3 linked regions of the Homo sapiens genome follow. The protein of the gene in region 3 interacts with the protein of the main gene of each other region in a pairwise test. Each region holds a gene or a part of one and is shown on either strand. Other genes may lie near its edges. The genes, in order: MECOM, PLEKHM1 and VPS39.

Region 1 (3,825 bases), on a different chromosome or scaffold from region 3:
CTCTATCCGGTAAAAATTAATTTCATGGTAATAGGTACTATTTATGTATTACCTCAGTCAGGCACACTGAGCTAAACACTTTATGTAAGTTAGTGCATGTGATTCCTCCACAACTCTTGGAGGCCAATACTGTTATTACTATCATCTGTTTTATAGGAGGAAAGTAAAGCTTAAAAGGTTAAGCAACTTGCTCAAGATCACACAGCTAGGTGAGTAGAGGCAGGTTTAAAGGCAGGATTAAAATTTAAATTCCAAAATTTTCTTTGTACTCCTTTTTATCTTCCCAAATATCAGAATTTGTTTTAACTCTTTCAGAGTACTCTTTATCTTGTTCTCTAAAAGTAGGTACATAATCAGAATAGATAATTTAGGTTGAATGCTCACTTAACCCATACTTTAAACTCTGCCAAAGATAAGTACTCTATATTATTTATTCTTAATTTCTTAGGATCTATCACAGAGCCTGGCATAGAGTAGATGCTTAAGAAATATTTGTTAAATGGATCATGAGATATTGTAGAAGTCCAAAAGGCAAATTGCATACATAAAAGTCAAATGTGTACATTTAGAGCGATGACCCAGCAAATCAAAAATCAGCCTACAAGGGTAAATTTTCTAACTAAATGCAATGATTACGGAAGAAACCACAGACTGGCCACATGTCTCAGCATGACTCCCAGAGATGAAATTCTGCCTAACAACAGAGGCATTTTGTCTTTGTTTACAGACAGTGGAATGTCTTTGGCAGGACTTTAATGATTCCACTTCAGCAGCATTTTGACAAGCAAGTTTAGCAATGGATGAGACCAACAATAGCAAATCAACAGTGAAAAGTTCACTTACAAGTCAAGACCAAACATTTCATTTGAATATTTTGCTTGGCAGTAAATAGGGGACTCTCTGAACAGTTATTTAAAATTTGACATGATAATAGGGAAGAAAGAGTACTTCCTCACAGAGCACCTCCATGCACCTTCTGCTCAGCAGACACTGGAAAACAAGTTGATTAGAACACTGTTGGGTCTTGTGTTTGGTTTTATTTTTTTGGTAGAGCTGATTTGATCCACCTCAACTTATGGGTGCCAGGACTGAGTATGTCAAGCATGGAGGGAAATTGGAGAAAAGACAATGGATTAAAAGTTGGGCAGAAATACATTTTAGTTATGCTTCTCCCACTATCTATCTAATTGAGTGACTTTGGGCAAGTCACTCAAGCACCTTCAGTGCTTTCGGTTATAAAGTGTAGGAGTCAGGCTGTATCCTCTACTAGGCCACAGCTCTGTCAAGGTAGGTCTATATCTTATTAATATTTGAGGTTTCAGTCATAAGCACACAATAATATTTTTGGTGAATTGAACATATGTAGTGGATGGATGACTGTATTTATAGTTGAACAGGAGACTGACTCATTTTTCTCAATGGAAGCACTATTTGCATTTTAGGTAGGATAGTTCTTTTTGGTTCTGTAGCGTGTGTCACTTTTGGGGCCCCTAGGCACTAAAGGCCAGCAGTAATCCCATGTGGTTTCTACAAAAAATATGCCTTCTTTGCCAAACACACCCATGAAGGATGCCCCTACTCAGGGTCCCATCCCTTTCCATTTACCAACAATATTCTTTGAACTAAAAGTGATGTTTTTCAAATGCCATTTACTGAGTCTCTCTCCTTTTTACCCCAGGCATATGCTATGATGCTGTCACTGTCTGACAAGGAGTCCCTCCATTCTACATCCCACAGTTCTTCCAACGTGTGGCACAGTATGGCCAGGGCTGCGGCGGAATCCAGTGCTATCCAGTCCATAAGCCACGTATGACGTTATCAAGGTTGACCAGAGTGGGACCAAGTCCAACAGTAGCATGGCTCTTTCATATAGGACTATTTACAAGACTGCTGAGCAGAATGCCTTATAAACCTGCAGGGTCACTCATCTAAAGTCTAGTGACCTTAAACTGAATGATTTAAAAAAGAAAAGAAAGAAAAAAGAAACTATTTATTCTCGATATTTTGTTTTGCACAGCAAAGGCAGCTGCTGACTTCTGGAAGATCAATCAATGCGACTTAAAGTGATTCAGTGAAAACAAAAAACTTGGTGGGCTGAAGGCATCTTCCAGTTTACCCCACCTTAGGGTATGGGTGGGTGAGAAGGGCAGTTGAGATGGCAGCATTGATATGAATGAACACTCCATAGAAACTGAATTCTCTTTTGTACAAGATCACCTGACATGATTGGGAACAGTTGCTTTTAATTACAGATTTAATTTTTTTCTTCGTTAAAGTTTTATGTAATTTAACCCTTTGAAGACAGAAGTAGTTGGATGAAATGCACAGTCAATTATTATAGAAACTGATAACAGGGAGTACTTGTTCCCCCTTTTGCCTTCTTAAGTACATTGTTTAAAACTAGGGAAAAAGGGTATGTGTATATTGTAAACTATGGATGTTAACACTCAAAGAGGTTAAGTCAGTGAAGTAACCTATTCATCACCAGTACCGCTGTACCACTAATAAATTGTTTGCCAAATCCTTGTAATAACATCTTAATTTTAGACAATCATGTCACTGTTTTTAATGTTTATTTTTTTGTGTGTGTTGCGTGTATCATGTATTTATTTGTTGGCAAACTATTGTTTGTTGATTAAAATAGCACTGTTCCAGTCAGCCACTACTTTATGACGTCTGAGGCACACCCCTTTCCGAATTTCAAGGACCAAGGTGACCCGACCTGTGTATGAGAGTGCCAAATGGTGTTTGGCTTTTCTTAACATTCCTTTTTGTTTGTTTGTTTTGTTTTCCTTCTTAATGAACTAAATACGAATAGATGCAACTTAGTTTTTGTAATACTGAAATCGATTCAATTGTATAAACGATTATAATTTCTTTCATGGAAGCATGATTCTTCTGATTAAAAACTGTACTCCATATTTTATGCTGGTTGTCTGCAAGCTTGTGCGATGTTATGTTCATGTTAATCCTATTTGTAAAATGAAGTGTTCCCAACCTTATGTTAAAAGAGAGAAGTAAATAACAGACTGTATTCAGTTATTTTGCCCTTTATTGAGGAACCAGATTTGTTTTCTTTTTGTTTGTAATCTCATTTTGAAATAATCAGCAAGTTGAGGTACTTTCTTCAAATGCTTTGTACAATATAAACTGTTATGCCTTTCAGTGCATTACTATGGGAGGAGCAACTAAAAAATAAAGACTTACAAAAAGGAGTATTTTTCCCCACTGTGTGGTATTTTTCCTTCATGCAATTTTACTTTCCCTTTGGGATCCAATGATTTAAAGATATGATGCTGAGATCTTGATGCCCTACAGATATGTGGAATGTAGAGTATGTTTGTTTTGTTTTGAGATAGCATAAATGATAGTTCTTGGGCAACAATGAGTCTCGCTTATTGTTCTGTACTTTCCCCATGTGGTGCAGTCAGGGCTCAAGTGCACCACAACCCAGTCCTGGTATCACTTCACGTTCACAGCATCCACTTAAATTAGGACAAAGAGCGACTTACAGGTTTTCTACGGATTGTATGCCAAAAGGAACTCAGTTTCTTATTTTTGTTTTTCATTATACGAGTAGTGTTAACTGATTCACAAAGGGGGGAAACCTTTGACTTTTCTATGCTCCTTTTAATTTTTTGTCCACATGCAAAATATCCTTTTTTCATTGTTATAACTGCGTGTAAACAAGATTTATTTTTTCTTTCTTTGCTTGTGTCAAAAGAAAAAAAAATTACACTGCATAGTGCTACAAATTCTTCAAAATAATAATGTAGCAGTTTCCCAATATTCCATCATTTGATCTACTATAATTTCCTCCACCAC
Region 2 (8,081 bases), on a different chromosome or scaffold from region 3:
ATGAGACGTGCAGGAGATGTGGGGAGAAGCACCAGAAGATTCTGCTGAAAGCCTGCTCCCCAGAAGGGTGGGAACAATAGGGACAATGAACTGCTGTTGTTCGTTATGTTTCATCCCCATTCCGTTTCATTTTATTGAATTGTAAACCGTGTGTATAACAACACTTTTTAATCAATTTTTTAAAAAAGAGAGAGTGGAAAGAAACCGCTTCCTACAACAGAACTGAAGAGCACACCAGTGATTACAGTGTCCAGAGAGGAGGGTGCATTAACACTAGTTTTATTATTTCAATCAGATGCCAAGCAAGAATATATCTGGGGTTCAGACAAGAAAGGCTCTCATTCAAGTGCTTACAAGAGCAATGGAAGGCAAGGACCTGCCCAATTGGCAGGGTGAAAATTAGCCACAACTAGAATAGTAACAACTGTTCATCTTTGAGCACTTACTACAGGCCAGAACTTGCATTAAGGATATCATCTTTTTCTTTTCTTTTTTTCTTTTCCTTTTTTTTTTTTTTTTTTTGTTGTTGTTGTTTTGGAACAGAGTCTCACTCTGTCATGTAGGCTGCAGTGCAGTGGCGCAATCTCAGCTCACTGCAACCTCAGCCTCCCAGGTTCAAGCGATTCTTGTGCCTCAGCCTCACAAGTACCTGGGACTACAGGCATGAACCACCATGCCTGGCTAATTTTTGTATCTTTGGTAGAGATGGGGTTTCACCATGTTGGCCAGGCTGGTTTCGAACTCCTGGCCTCAAGTAATCCACCCACCTCAGCCTCCCAAAGTTATGGGATTACAGGCGTGAGCCACTGTGCCCAGCCAGGATATCATGATATTTACTCCTCACATCAACTGACATTAGCCCCTATTTACAATGAGGAACTGAGGCTCAGAGAGGTTTTGGCACTTGCCTGAGGTCACACACTCTGGGCTCTCTGCTTGGGGCTGAGGGCGAAGGGGCGTTGTGACTTACTTCTCTTTCCTGAACATCAATAAAATTCAATTTAGAAATTTCTGTCTTCAGTGCGATCTCAACGGGCCTGTGAAAAATGCTGACTCGGTGGCAGCTGTCAGCTATCTTAGCCCCATACTCATTGGGTTGCCCTGGGCCCCACACTGTTTTAAGGAAGTCCCAGCAAACAATATGGGATAGAGATGAGATTCAAACCTAAACAGCCCTGGCTCTAAAATCCACTGAACAAAGCTGAAACTAGAATCAGAAAGAACTAGGTAAGAATCCTACTTCTAGCACTTACTACTTCTGTGGCTGTGGCCCCCCCGCAAGTTACTTAACCTCTTTTTTTTTTTTTTTTAAGAGATGAAGTCTCGCTCTGTCACCAGGCTGGAGTGCAGTGGCGTGATCTCGGTTCACTGCAACCTCTGCCTCCTGGGTTCAAGCGATTCTCCTGCTTCAGCCTCCCAAGTAGCTGGGACTACAGATGCGTGCTACCACGCCCAGCTAATTCTTTGTATTTTAGTAGAGACAGGGTTTCACCATGTTGGCCAGGATGGTCTGGATCTCTTGATCTCATGATCCACCCACCTCGGCCTCCCAAAGTGCTGGGATTACAGGCATGAGCCACCGCACCTGGCCACTTAACCTCTTTTAAGCCTATTTTCTCATCCATACAATAGAGATAATGGCAGCACCCACCTTTCAGGTGGCTGGTAAGGAATATTAGGTGAACACAGGTGCCTATGTATGTTCTTCCATTTTCCATAAATGTTAATTCCCTTATCCCTCATCTCCTAGGTTAGTCCCGGAGGACAGACTTGAACTTTGAAAACAGAAAGTAACTGCCAAAAGGGATTATTTAGGGCACAGATTTCCCCCTTTCATTATCCTTTAGGTCCTCAGTGGTGAGGGCAGGGGACAGGAGAGGTGGGGTGAAGCCCAAATTCTTGGACCTCATCCTAGAGTGACTCTTTAGGGTTAGTGTGGGGCTTAGGAATCTGCATTTTGGACCTGTCCCCAGGGCATTCTGATGCCTACAGTTCTCCTGTGTGGCTTTGAATAACGCTGGGTAGTGCTTTAAATCCAAGCTGACAGACCAGTGGGATGTGAACCATCCTTGCAAATGGTTTGAGCCCTTTCTGCACTGGCCTCCAACTTTGCCTTGCTCAGTCTTCAGCTCCCCTTCCATTCTGGCCCTCTCCCCTTACCCTTTCCTTTTTCACTTCCTTTTATTTTTATTTATTTTTATTATTATTTAAAAAAAATTTTTTTTGAGACAGGATCTCACTCTGTCGCCCAGGCTGTAGTGCAGTGGCATTATCTTGGCTCACTGCAATCTCCGCCTCCCGGGTTCAAGCAATTCTCATACCTCAGCCTCCTTAGTAGCTGGGACTACAGACACACACCACCACACCTGGCTAATTTTTGTATTTTTAGTAGAGATGGGCTTTCACCATGTTGGCCAGGCAGGTCTCGAACTCCTGACCTCAAGTGATCCACCAGCTTCGGCCACCCAAAGTGCTGGGATTACAGGCATGACCCACCGTGCCCAGCCTCCTTTTTCACTTCCCACCTTCCTCCCCACCTCTGGGTGCACCCTTCCCTGAGCTCAGCCTGTATTCCTATGTGCTGGCCACTTACCAGCCAGTCCCTTCAGCTGCAATACCCTTTACTCACCTAGAAAGCTCATATCAAAAGTCGCCTCCTCCAGAATACCTCTCAAGTTCTCCTCTCTGGTCCCTTGGCCCTTTGCAGGTACCTTTTTTCTTGCGCAAGTCACGTGATAATGTAAGGGTTTTTTTTTTTTTTTTCCCCCCCATCTGGAGCCTGCCTGGTGGGCTCAGGGTCCATTTGTGCAAACATGCATTTCCCTCTCCTCTGCGCCCCCTCCTTCATGATCCATGCTTTATGCAGCTTCCCCAAGGCATGCAGAGCAAGCTGAGAAGAGGTAGGCAAGCCTGAAGACTTTTCAAAGAAGCAGGGTAGCTTGGGAAGTAAGAGAAGACCAGGAGATAGGGGCTCCTAAAAAGCAGACAAGAGATTACCGAGGGGTTCCCCACAGCTCCAGCACACAGCCGCTGCACAAAAATGCAGTGGAATTACTGAGGGACATTATGTGCTTGATGGGGGACAGGGAATGCTTGTGCCAAGCCACCAAGGATTATGCTGTGCCAGTTGTATACTATCGTTTTGCCAAGGTGAAAGGATTTCCCTACTAAATCCCTTACTTTCCACTTTGTTTAAAATGAGTTTAACACCGAGAGAATAGTTTGTCTCTATGTCCTTATTTCTAATCTTCCTGCTCAACCATTAACTGCAGTAAACACACTCAGACCCATCTAGTCTAAAATTGAGAAGGGGAGGTTCTCACTCCTGGAGAGAGAATTACTGAAAGGGCGGCCCTCATACAGTCCAGGGTCATACCCCCAAGTGCTGGTTTTATACTTGAAAGCAGACAGTGGGACTCTGAACTTTGCAGAGATAAGAGGGACACCTTCCTACCCAGAGAAGCCAAAAGAGCACAGGACGCCCAGGCCGAGGGCAGTGAAGCTTGCTTCCAAGAACTGGCCCGTTCCCCAGCCAACCCCTGTGCCCACTTAGGACTGGCATGTAGCAGTACCTCTCCTCATCCACACTCAGGCCCTAGGCTCCCAATTGACCAAAGCCTGCAAGTATAAAGTGTCCAGAGCATGGGTCCCTGCCAACACTCCCTGCCCTGCTCTTCACTACCTGTGGCCACCACTTATGACATTTTGTTCCGAGTTCATCTGAAAGAGAAATGTCACTTTTGCGTTAGAAAGAAGATATACAGGCCAGGTGTGGTGGTTCATGCCTGTAATCCCAGCACTTTGGGAGGCCGAGTCAGGAGGATCGCCTGAGGCCAGGAGTTGGAGACCAGGTTAGGTAACACAGTGAGACCCCTGTCTCTACAAAATAAACAAATTTTTTTAAAAATGAAAAGATTGGCCGGGCGCGGTGGCTCACGCCTGTGATCCCAGCACTTTGGGAGGCCGAGGCGGGTGGATCACCAGGTCAGGAGATCGAGACCATCCTGGCTAACACGGTGAAACCCCATCTCTACTAAAAACATAAAAAAATTAGCCGGGCGTGGTGGCGGGCTCCTGTAGTCCCAGCTACTCGGGAGGCTGAGGCAGGAGAATGGCGTCAATCCAGGAGGCGGAGCTTGCAGTGAGCCGAGATCGCGCCATTGCACTCCAGCCTGGGCGACAGAGCCAGACTCCGTCGCAAAAAAAAAAAAAAAAAGAAAAAAGAAAAAATTAGCTGGGCGTGGTGGTGCACGCCTGTAGTCCCAGCTGCTTGGAGGCTGAGGTGGGAGAACCACTTAGTCCGTGAGGTCAAAGCTGTGGTGAGCCGTGATCGTGCCACAGCACTCCAGTCTGGGCGACAGAGTGAGACCCTGTCTCAAAAAAAAAGCAGAAAGGAAGAAAGAAATCCTCTACACGGGCTAGAAGAGAATAACCAGACCCCTAAGCTTCAAGCCAGGCGGTGCTAATGGGCGAGTTACACACGGGAGAGTGCCCAAGGGGACCTCAAGGCGTTCCCTTGGGATAAAGTGTGGTCAAAACAGCTATGTTTATCCTGAAAGCGCAAGGCGGAGGCTCCAATTTGGGCCCGGGCTCCGCCCCACGGGCTGCACTGCTGCCCTCGGAGAGGCAAAGATAGGGCAGGCGTTATTAGTCCCACTCACAAGTGGGAACTCTTCAGCTGAGGGAGGCGAAGTGACAGCCCCAATGTTGCACAGATGGTTCTGAGGCCAAACGAGGTCAGGAACCCAGAAGCCAGGATCTAGTTTGACGCAGACCTGCGGGAGGCGGGCGGTAACGGATGCGTTCTCCCTGACACCGGTGCCTTCGCCTCTCTGCGCCCTGCAGGCGCCCCCAGTTCCCCAGCCTCCCAGACCTCGCATCTGCCCCGGGGCTCAGCTCCCAGGGACTTCCGGGAGCAGCTGGCCCCGCCCCAAGGCTCCTTCGGGCTGCGCGATTGGCACCGCGGGCCGGGGCAGGGCCGGAGCGCCGAGCCAACGTGATGGCGTCAGGGGCCGGGGCGCCGCTTCCTGTTGTCAGTGGCCGAGAGACCGCATCGTCGGCTCGGAGGCTGAGGGGCTGCCGCGGCCGGGAGCGCCCCTCGCCTCGCTCCTCGCTCCGCTTGGTGAGTTAGGGGGTCAAGATGCGAGGAGGGCGGCGGAGTGGTGGGAGGGCCGAGGCGCGAACGGGCGGTGGGCCTCCCGCTCCCTCCGCGATTCCCAGCCCCTGGTTACCCTGAGACTGCCCGGCTTCAGGGCCCTCAGCCCTGTCCAGCCCGCGCCCGCTCCTCTCCGACCCAGCCTTCCCCCTGCACCGCCGCTGTGGCCCCGTCCCCTCCGTCTGTCCAGCCCCCAGCCCGCGCCCGCATCCCCTCACCAGCGGTCTTGCTTAAATGCAGCTTCACTCGTGACCCCACTTTACCCCAGTTCCAACACCGATCTCGGCCACGTCCCTTCGCCCCGCCCTGACACACCTCATCCTCTCTCCCCACCCCTCTGGTAATCCCGATGCTCCGCGCTTACCTCCCCGAGACCCACCATTCAGGTTTCCCCTTTTCTGGCTCAGCTTTCTTATCCCAGTCACCCCCATCCCCCGTCTAGCTCCCCAAGATCTGCTCATCCCAAACATTCTACCTCCGCCCTCTCATCTAAGACCCACCCCCAAAGTAGGTGCCCTGTTGAGCTCACCGCTTTCTTCTGGATAACTCCGATCTCAGCCTTATTCCAAGTCTTAACTGTGTCTTCTCGTCCTTAGTCTCCTAGCCACTGTATACCTTCCTTTGCGTCTCCTGCCGTACTGAGGACAGCCCATCCCTAAGTCTTTGCCAAACTGTCCCGAACTCTTGCTGCCTCCTTTCCTACCACCCTCACCCAATCTTGTTAAAAATGACATCTCCATGTCCTTTCACCCCCGCTGACCCACCGCAACTCTTCACCCCAACTCTGCGTCCATTGCTTCCCTCGACCCAACTCCCATTCAACCTGAGAACTTAGTGCAGAGTCGCCTGCCAACTCCACCAGCTGCCCCTCAACAGCCAAATGTAGGTGCTCACTCAGACCCGCAGTTACAGACTGAGCAGCATGATTGGCGGGTGCAGGGGCTCAGGTGGTAAATAAGGGTGGAGGAGCAGTGGGCTCTCCCCAACTCTTGGGTGGGGCCGGGGTTTTTCCTGGCATCTGGTCTCCTGCACCTGTCCTCAGGGATTGTGTTTTTGGCATTCATATTAAATGACTTGTGCTGGCTGCTGGAATGGTAGGTATCATTCAAATATCTGGAAGGTGAGAGACGGCCACTCACTCAGCTCACTTAGCACAGAATGATGGAAGCTGTCACTTCCTTCTGGTTGGTGTTCTCGCCCTGGAGAGCTTCTGGGAAGTTCTGTGTGGTGTTGGCTGTGGTCACAGAATATTGTTCGTGTTCCTTTTCTTGGCACTTGTAAGGGCCTCTCCCTGCCAGAGCTGATGGCAGATCAGTCCTGATGCTGAATTCAGGGGATATGATGGGTGCCAGAGGCAACGTTACCTGTTGTGAAGAGTATAGGTGAGTAGGTCCTGGGGAGGCTGAGGCCTAGGTGGGTACAGAGGCTCTTGAATCGCTTTCTTTTCTTTTAAGTGCTGGATCATTGACTTTTGGCCATCTGGGTTCCATGAACACAGGGAACCATGTTATCTCAGAGTAGCTGAGGCAGAAGGACATTCCAGAGGCACCCAAGTCCCATGCTCAGCATTTATAGTTTCCTGGGGGCTTTTTGGTACACATTTTCTCTGAATCCTGAGGACCCGGCATCAGATGGGTGGGCCATTTGATTGCAGCTTTTTTCTTTCTTTCTTTCTTTTTTTCGACGGAGTTTACTCTTGTTCCCCAGCCTGGAGTGCAGTGGCATGATCTCGGCTCACCGCAACCTCTGCCTCCCAGGTTCAAGCGATTCTCCTGCCTCAGCCTCCCGAGTAGCTGGGATTACAGGCATACACCACCATGCCCGGCTAGTTTTGTATTTTTAGTAGAGATGGGGGTTTCTCTGTGTTGATCAGGCTGGTCTCCAACTCCCGACCTCAGGTGATCCACCCACCTCGGCCTCCCAAAGTGCTGGGATTACGGGCGTGAGCCGCCGCACCTGGCTGATTGCAGTTTTAAAGAGCCCCAAAGAACACTGTCTCTGCTTGCCACTTATAGTCGTATTCCTTTGAAAAGTGAATGCTGTTTACCTTCAATGTCCTCCCATTAATATGCAGTATATTTAAGTTGTTTTCAGCCTTATTGGCAGCTTGGCTTAATGACAGGAGCTCCACAGTTGCCCCAGCACTTAAGAGTTGTATACCCCAACTTCCCACAGTGTGTGAAGTGGAGGTACTTACCCCGTGCCTTGTTTTTATTTTATTAATCAATTCATTCAACAGCTTATTTTTTGAGCACCAGTGTGTGACAAACACTGTTCCAGGTACTAGAAATACAATGGTGAATGGGTCAGGCAACGGTCCTGTTTTCATTCATTCAGAGTTTGGTCCTTGTTAGAATCCTCTGGGATATGGGACAAGAATACAGGAAAGCTGGGTGATACTGGATGGAAGGAAGGAGGGAGGAAAGAAAGATAGCTAGTGTTCACTGACTCCACAATTCTGCCCTCATCCACTAGCCCTGAGTCTGGGAATCACAAGCTAAAAGTTTCTCACCCTTCATCTGGTATTTAATTGCTTCAAAGCTCCAACCCCCACCACTCCACCCATCACAGAAATCCAGCTTTCCTCAGGTGGACAGAGGTGCAGTTTCCTCAGTCAGCACTCACATGCCTGAAAGATCAGCTGCCTTTCTGAATCAGAGGATAACTTTGTCATTCTTTTCCAATTGAAAAAACATGACTCATCAATTGGTACAGCAGTTGGATGGCTTAAAGCCAGGCTGTGGCTCTGAACAGCCAGTTACACAATTCAGGCAGTGGAGAGAAGGCCGTGGGGAGTGGCTGAGGAGTCCCTCAAGAGAAGAGGTTGCTGTTCACTGATGGTGGAGTGTTTTGAGAGTGGTGGAACCAGGTTATCCCTTTCTTCTTTTAACGTAAGTCTCATCCAAGTCATTCTCTTTTTTTGCTT
Region 3 (7,119 bases):
GGAAGAAAAAAACTAAGAAGTAAAAGATAGCAGTAGATAATCACTTCCTAAAATAAACATTTCTGTTTATATGTTTTCCCCCTCTGGAGTAAAACTCAGCTTCTTGCAAGAACTAGACTATCCCATTTTTAATGACCCTAAAATGTCATCTACTTATAAGAAGGGGAACTGAAAGTGAATGACACAACGTAAACCAGTCTGCTAAAGCTACGAATGGGACTCCGTTCTGCAGGAATGGCACACAACCTCAACCCAAAGTGGGAAACAGCAGCTACTGTTGGTCTCACCCATGGCCACTGGTATGTCCGTCCAGTTCAGGGCACATTTCTGTGTGCAGATCCCTTCCTCATTGAGTACCACGGTGAGATCATCCTGGCCCACAGCCACTTTTCCATCTGCCAGAGGTGCAACTAAGGGCTCCAGCTGTTTTCCTGTTGGAAAGAGCTCTTTGATGGACCCCTTTCCATCCACCTATAGGAAGAAACAGAGTGAGTCACCTAGCATTCCCCAGCCAGAGGTAAGAACACAGGAAAAATCCAGATAGAACCCGAAACCTAGAGAAGCCAATAATATTCCTTGTTTGACATAAGAAAATGTTACAGAGTTTATTATAATAACCGTTGTTATCACAATGTAAAACCCGTTCTCTAATGCAAAGGAAAGCATCTAGCCTGGCAACTGACAATGCCAGGTGCTGGCAAGAATGCAGAGCAACTAGAACTCACATTCACTGCTGGTGGGAATGCAAAATGGTGCAGCTGTTTTGTTTGTTGGTTTCTTACAAAGTTTAAGATACACTTGCCATATGCCCCTTAAAGATACACTTACCATATGCCCCAGCAATCCCATTCCCAGGCATTTGCCCAGGAATGCCAATGTATGTTTACACAAACGCTTGTATGCAAATGTCTTAGATGCTTATTCAAAATTGCTAAAAATTGAAAACAACTTTTTTTTTTTTTTTTTTTGGAGACAGTCTTGCTCTGTCGCCCAGGCTGGAGTGCAGTGGCACAATCTCAGCTCACTGCAACCTCCGCCTCCTGGGTTCAAACAATCCTCCTGCCTCAGCCTCCTGAGTAGCTGGAACTACAGGCGTGTGCCACCACGCCAGGCTAATTTTTTTTTTTGTATTTTTAGTAGAGATGGGGTTTCACCGTGTTAGCCAGGATGGTCTCAATCTCCTGACCTCGTGATCCACCCGCCACGGCCTCCCAAAGTGCTGGGATTAAAGGTGTGAGCCACCGCGCCTGGCCAAAATCAACTTTGTCCATCAACTGATGAATGGATAAACAAACACCTTGCCATAGACTACTATTCAGCCATGAGAAAGAATAAACTATTAACACACACAACAACATGGATAAATCTCCAGTGCATTCTGCTAAGTGAAAGAAGCCAGACTCAAAAGCCTACATATTGTGTCATTCAATTTATATGACATTCTGGAAAAGGCAAAGCTATAGGAGATGAAGAACAGATGAGTGGTTACCAGAGGTCTAGGAACAGAAGGAGAGGCTGACTTCAATATGAGGGAATTTTGGGGGGTGATGGTAGTGTTGTGAATCTCGATTGTGGCATTAGTCACATAAATCTAAGCATTTGTCAAAACACAGAACTGTACACCAAAAAGAATAAATTTTACTGTATGTAAATAAGTAATTTCTGAATAGCCTGGTCCTAAAGCAAGGTTTCCCACCCTGAAGGTGATGTCAGCATCCAAGGCAGTCAGAGAACTGAGAGCCTTAAGTCCAGCTTTTGCTCAGTTCCCTTATTCCTTGTGCGCTCTCTCACCATCTGTAGGCCTACTTGCTATTGAGTCAGTGGCACAGCAGTGACTCCTCCAGGAGTCTGCAACTCTGATGCTGATAAAATCAGGATATTCAAATGACACAAAGATGGAACAAATATATTAACAAGATAACAATGGGGCCAGGCATGGTGGCTGTAATCTCAGCACTTTGGGAGGCTGAGGCAGGAGGGCTGCTTGAGCCCAGGAGTTTAAGACCAGCCTATGCAACATATTGTGACCCCATCTCTACAAAAATACAAAAAAAAAAAAAATACAAAAATTAGCTGAGCATGGTGGTAGGCATCTGGGCTACCTGGGAGGCTGAGGTGGGAGGACTGCTTGAGCCCAGGAGACGGAGGCTGCAGTGAGCCAAGATCCTGCCACTGCACTCCCGCCTGGGTGACAGAGGGGTACCCTGTCTCAAATAAAATAAAATAACCAATGAAGAGCTCACCCAGTGGAAGGTAGAGAGAGAGGCTTCTAGAATTGCCATGTCTGAATTACAAGGGGTGTGAAGCTAAGAGATTTAGATTATTCAATGAAACGAACAGTGTGTCAATCTTTTCTACATATAGTATGCATATTGGAGAAAAACAACGTCATGGATATTTACAACTTACGTTAAGAGAAAACACAGGTCATAAAACAATTGTATAGCATAGTATTTTTACCAATAGGATGGAAGTTCATATACCAAGAAGTTGGCAGTGACTATTTCTGAGTGGGGGGACTATGGTTGATTTGCACTTCCTTTATCTCCTTATCTATATTTTCTGTAATAAACACGTGTAAAAACACGTGGCTTTTGAAATTTAAAAAAATAGTGAGAATCACTTTTAGTACAAACATACAAAAAGATTTGACGGCAGGAGAGGAAACTCAAAGTCTTAAAAATACTTAAGTTTATACTAAAATTAGTTTAAAATTCCTAAGCACTGAAGCCTTAGGATAGCAGTCCATGATGATCCACTGGACAGAGGCAAACAGCCTTCATTATCTGTCCCAATAGTAAAATACACACTGTGGATCATCATTACGTAAAGAACTGAGCGTTGACTCTTGGACTGACTTAAGTTACAAAGATATCCTATTTGTGAAAAATGCTGAGCATGAATGATAACTACACATACAAATAACAAATCCTGTTATGCCAAAAGCTCTACTTAAAGTGGTCGCTTGACCTGGAGTTTGGAGCAGATAATCATCTTCCCCAAGATAAACTAATGATATTTGCAAAATAATAAGATTTTACCCTTATTAGGTAGTAGTCTCTCTTGAAACCCACACAGATAGAATTTTCACACCACGCCATGGACTTGGGCACATCTGGCACACTAAAGTCCCCCTGAAAAAAGAGAGCAAGGATCTGAATGAAATAAATATTTTTTTAAAAAATCATGACTTTCCTGTTATTCTGCAACCTCCATTCTGCAAAACAACCCTCACCCTCATCGGGCACAATTCTACAGGCACAAGGCCAGGAAACTACCCTTAATAAAAATACAAGTCCATGAACTGGACAAAGTACATTTGGAAAAGGTGAAAACCCACTTTGAAATAAACCAATCTATAAAAACACTGTAGAATCATATTACAAGTAGGCATCAACAAGCTCTCATGCACTTCATACCAGAGTATTCATTTGCGTAGAATGACAAGACTGGAGTCCTGAACTTCACTAGAACCGAGCCACTGCAGCAGCTCCCACCCAACCATGGACCAAGGAACAGTGGACTTACCTGCAATTCATGAAATTCCCTGTCCTTCCAGAAATAGAGCTGCAGCTTCTTTTTTACTGCCACACACATCCGTAACACCTCCTCACCGGTCTCTGTGTGCTGGGAGGAGACATGCAGAGCAAATGAAAATACAATGACTCTCTCTAACTGAGTGATAACTAAATTAGAGATTGTCTACCTTGAAATTGCTACTACTCTGAAAATTCCCTGTAACACAGTCATCCTGCCAGGAAAGCTGAGCAGAACACCATTCTCTAAGATGCGCTAAGAAACAAGTGACTGAGGAACACTTCCTCCCGAAGGGTTGCCAGCCAAAGACCACAGCACCAGCAAATCACATGGACATTCACAATTCAGAGGAGAAAATCCTGGGGCAGTCCTTCCCCTATATAACTCCTCCCTCCTTTTTGCTCTTAAATGTTTCTTGCTCCTGGCTGTCAATGCATGCTGGGTTAAGGGTGACCATGTGCCAGTGACATCAAGCCCACTTTTAAGCCTTTAAAGAGCAAGGAAAAGAGTATTCCTAAGCATAAAATGATGCAGTGTCAATGTAGAACATAAATGCTAAAAAATGGTAAGTTGAGTAGAGAGAGGGGTGAGGCAGATTCTGAAGAATAAAAGAATGATAAATTGGCAAAAATAAAGAGCGATATCTTTTCTGAACAATGAAAAGTCCCTAATGACAAAGACCTCAGTGATCTGTTTAGAACAAGACTCCATTTAATGTCTTATAATTATCTTCATGATATTGTTACAGTCTTGCTTTCCCAACAATGGTTTGTCCAGGACGAGAGTTTTTGTCCTCGGTTAGCTGCCTCTTGCCAATAGTATTAGATTCTCATTAACCCACGCACAGGGAATGCAAACGCTTCAACTTCACACTATGCACCAACAGAGAAATTTCTCTAATACAATTAAATATTCTCTTTGGGCCGGGTGCAGTGGCTCATGCCTGTAATCCCAGCACTTTGGGAGGCCAAGGTCACCTAAGGTCAGGAGTTCGAGACTAGCCTGGCCAACATGGTGAAACCCCATCTCTAATTTAAAAAAATACAAAAAATAGCCGGACGTGGTGGTGCACACCTGTAGTCCCAGCTACACAGGAGGCTGAGGCAAGAGAATCACTTGAGCCCGAGAGGCAGGGGTTGCAGTGAGCCGAGATCGTGCCACTACACTCTAGCCTGGGCGACAGAACAAGACTCCATCTCAGGAAAAAAATAAATAAATAAATAATCTTTGGAGTCTCTGTTGGGTATGGATCATCAGTGTCATTCTTCCCATCTAATGGTAGGAATGATGTAGGAAAGACTGTATTGATTAAAGCATAAAGCCAAATTTCATCTTGGGTAAACTTACCTGGAGGTCACAAGTAAACAGTGATGCTCCCTTTGCCTTTGAAACCGTAGTGATTTGTTGAAATGTCAATAGGTCATGGACATAAATGTTATTTTCTGTTTGGGAGGAGGTATAACATCAGGATCAATGATCATAATTCTCTAGCATAGCCACTATCGAGGCAAAAAAAGTAACTGTGTTAACATCTAGAAGAAGCAAATGGCAGATGTTGGTTGAAGATGTCCCTTCAGTTTCACTAGGATGATTCATTCTCACCTATAACCAGTACAAAGCATTTAAGAGGTCACTTGGTCTTCTAAACTTGGATATTTTCTTCCTTAAACATTTGAGCTTGGCCCGGCATGGTGGCTCACACCTGTCATCCCAGCACTTTGGGAGGCTGAGACAGGCAGATCACTTGAGGTCAAGAGTTTGAGACCAGCCTGGGTAACACAGTGAAACCCTGTCTCTACTAAAAATACAAAAATCAGCTGGGTATGGTGGTGGGTGCCTGTAATCCCAGCTACTCAGGGGGTTGAAGCAGGAGAATCCCTTGACCCAGGAGGTCAGAAGTTGCAGTGAGCCAGGGCTGCACCACTACACTCCAGCCTGGGCGACAGAGTGAGACTCCGTCTCAAAAAAAAAAAAAAAAAAAATTGGGGCTGACTTGAGTAAAAGAGATCTTTCACTTCCAAAACACTCTTTTTTTTTTTTTTTTTTTTTTTTTTGAGGCACGGTCTCACTCTGTTGCCCAGGCTAGAGTGCATCAACAAAAGGGGCATGATCTCAGCTCACTACAGCCTTAACCTCCTTGAGACTCAAGTGATCCTCCTACCTCAGCCTCCTGAGTAGCTAGGACTACAGGCATGCACCACCACACCTGGCTAATTTTGTTTATTTTTTGTGGAGATGAGGTCTCCCTGTGTTGCCCAGGCTGGTCTCAAACTCCTGGACTCAAGCAATCCTCCTGCCTTAGCCTCCCAAAGTGCTGGGATTACTGGTGTGAGCCACTGCACCCAGTCCAAAGCACTCTTATACTCTGTCCATTTCAAGTCTGAAATATTATGATGCAGTATTTATACAAGAAATGGCTTTCAAAGCTACTCACATTAGGAGGCTCCAATTAGAAAAGGGAAATCCCCTGTGCATTTTGTACTAACCCATGGCAATGATTTCTTTCCTAGCAAAGCAATCAAAATAATCATTTTACCTGGGCCTCATATCTAGTTTTAGTCATGAAGATTAAGTTACCTCAGATGTTTATCTGTGGACCCAGGAACAACATTTAACATGATTTTACTCTTTGGGCCCCAGGGTCAACAGCGCAAAGTGTGAGATCAGCTGCTAGTCCCCTGCATGTCCAGAAAAGGCCTCACTGGCTGCTTTCTATGAAACCATGGTTTTTCACATGAGGGCCTCAACAGTGTAGCCCTGCTCTGTCTCTTACCTGATATCCTGCCAATCTCCACCACATATCCTTAGTCTGGCCACAATAAACAATTTGCCACAAACTGCCACATCTCAAGGCCTTTGTTCTAGTTGTTCCCTGTGTTTGTGATACGCTGCTGGCCTCTTTTCCTACTGAAAGTCTAGTTATCTACTAGACAATATAGTCCCTCCCATTACCAAGATTCCACAACACTTTTTATAAATTTTCACTGTAACTTACCACATTGTATCGTGATTACTTCCTGTCATTTAGTCTTCATAATCAGAATGTAAGTCTCAAAGATAGCAACTATGTCTCACTGAACTTGGTATCCCGAATGTCTAGTCCAGACTTTGCATAGAATAGGCTCAATAAATATTTGATCAATGAACGAATGAATGAATAAAGTGAGACTCCTTGGAGAGAAGAGTTCGAGTCTATGGAGGATGCTGCTGCCTTTATTAACCATGTACCCTGTTATACCAGGTTTGGAACACGTCAGTTCATTGTTAAGTAACCACTATCAAATTAACCATGAAAGGATTAATTAGGTCATATCTTTTCTTGTTAGACACAGGATACAAATGCAACTCCTTTTCTTACCTAACAAGCTGACCAGAATCTTAAACTGGGAAACCACATGGATCTGGAAAATAGGAAATCATGAGACCCAATTAAACATTTCTGACAAGGTTTAGCAAATGTTCATTCAATAACAGTAATAAAAAGGGACCACGGAGCCTATCCAGTTACAGGGATCTCACTGATTTTTCTGGGCACTATAATTTCTGTGATTATCATTTCTGCTTGTGAGAGAGGATCTCAGG

Evidence for each region.
Region 1: the proteins of VPS39 (region 3) and MECOM interact in a two-hybrid assay, tested with the Homo sapiens proteins (one study listed by BioGRID).
Region 2: the proteins of VPS39 (region 3) and PLEKHM1 interact in binary tests that used the Homo sapiens proteins (3 or more experiments, as listed by UniProt).

Annotation. Positions count from the first base shown.
Region 1 is NC_000003.12:169,082,897-169,086,721, reverse strand, and holds the end of MECOM (histone-lysine N-methyltransferase MECOM), read left to right. Parts: intron 1-1,678; coding exon 1,679-1,813; 3' UTR 1,814-3,215; downstream 3,216-3,825.
Region 2 is NC_000017.11:45,487,693-45,495,773, reverse strand, and holds the start of PLEKHM1 (pleckstrin homology domain-containing family M member 1), read left to right. Parts: upstream 1-5,052; 5' UTR 5,053-5,122; exon of another isoform or gene 5,123-6,537; intron 6,538-7,911; exon of another isoform or gene 7,912-7,992; coding exon of another isoform or gene 7,993-8,046; intron 8,047-8,081. UniProt on the Homo sapiens protein: Acts as a multivalent adapter protein that regulates Rab7-dependent and HOPS complex-dependent fusion events in the endolysosomal system and couples autophagic and the endocytic trafficking pathways.
Region 3 is NC_000015.10:42,184,230-42,191,348, forward strand, and holds part of VPS39 (vam6/Vps39-like protein), read right to left. Parts: intron 6,939-7,119; coding exon 6,896-6,938; intron 4,980-6,895; coding exon 4,885-4,979; intron 3,628-4,884; coding exon 3,529-3,627; intron 3,135-3,528; coding exon 3,042-3,134; intron 472-3,041; coding exon 288-471; intron 1-287. UniProt on the Homo sapiens protein: Regulator of TGF-beta/activin signaling, inhibiting SMAD3- and activating SMAD2-dependent transcription.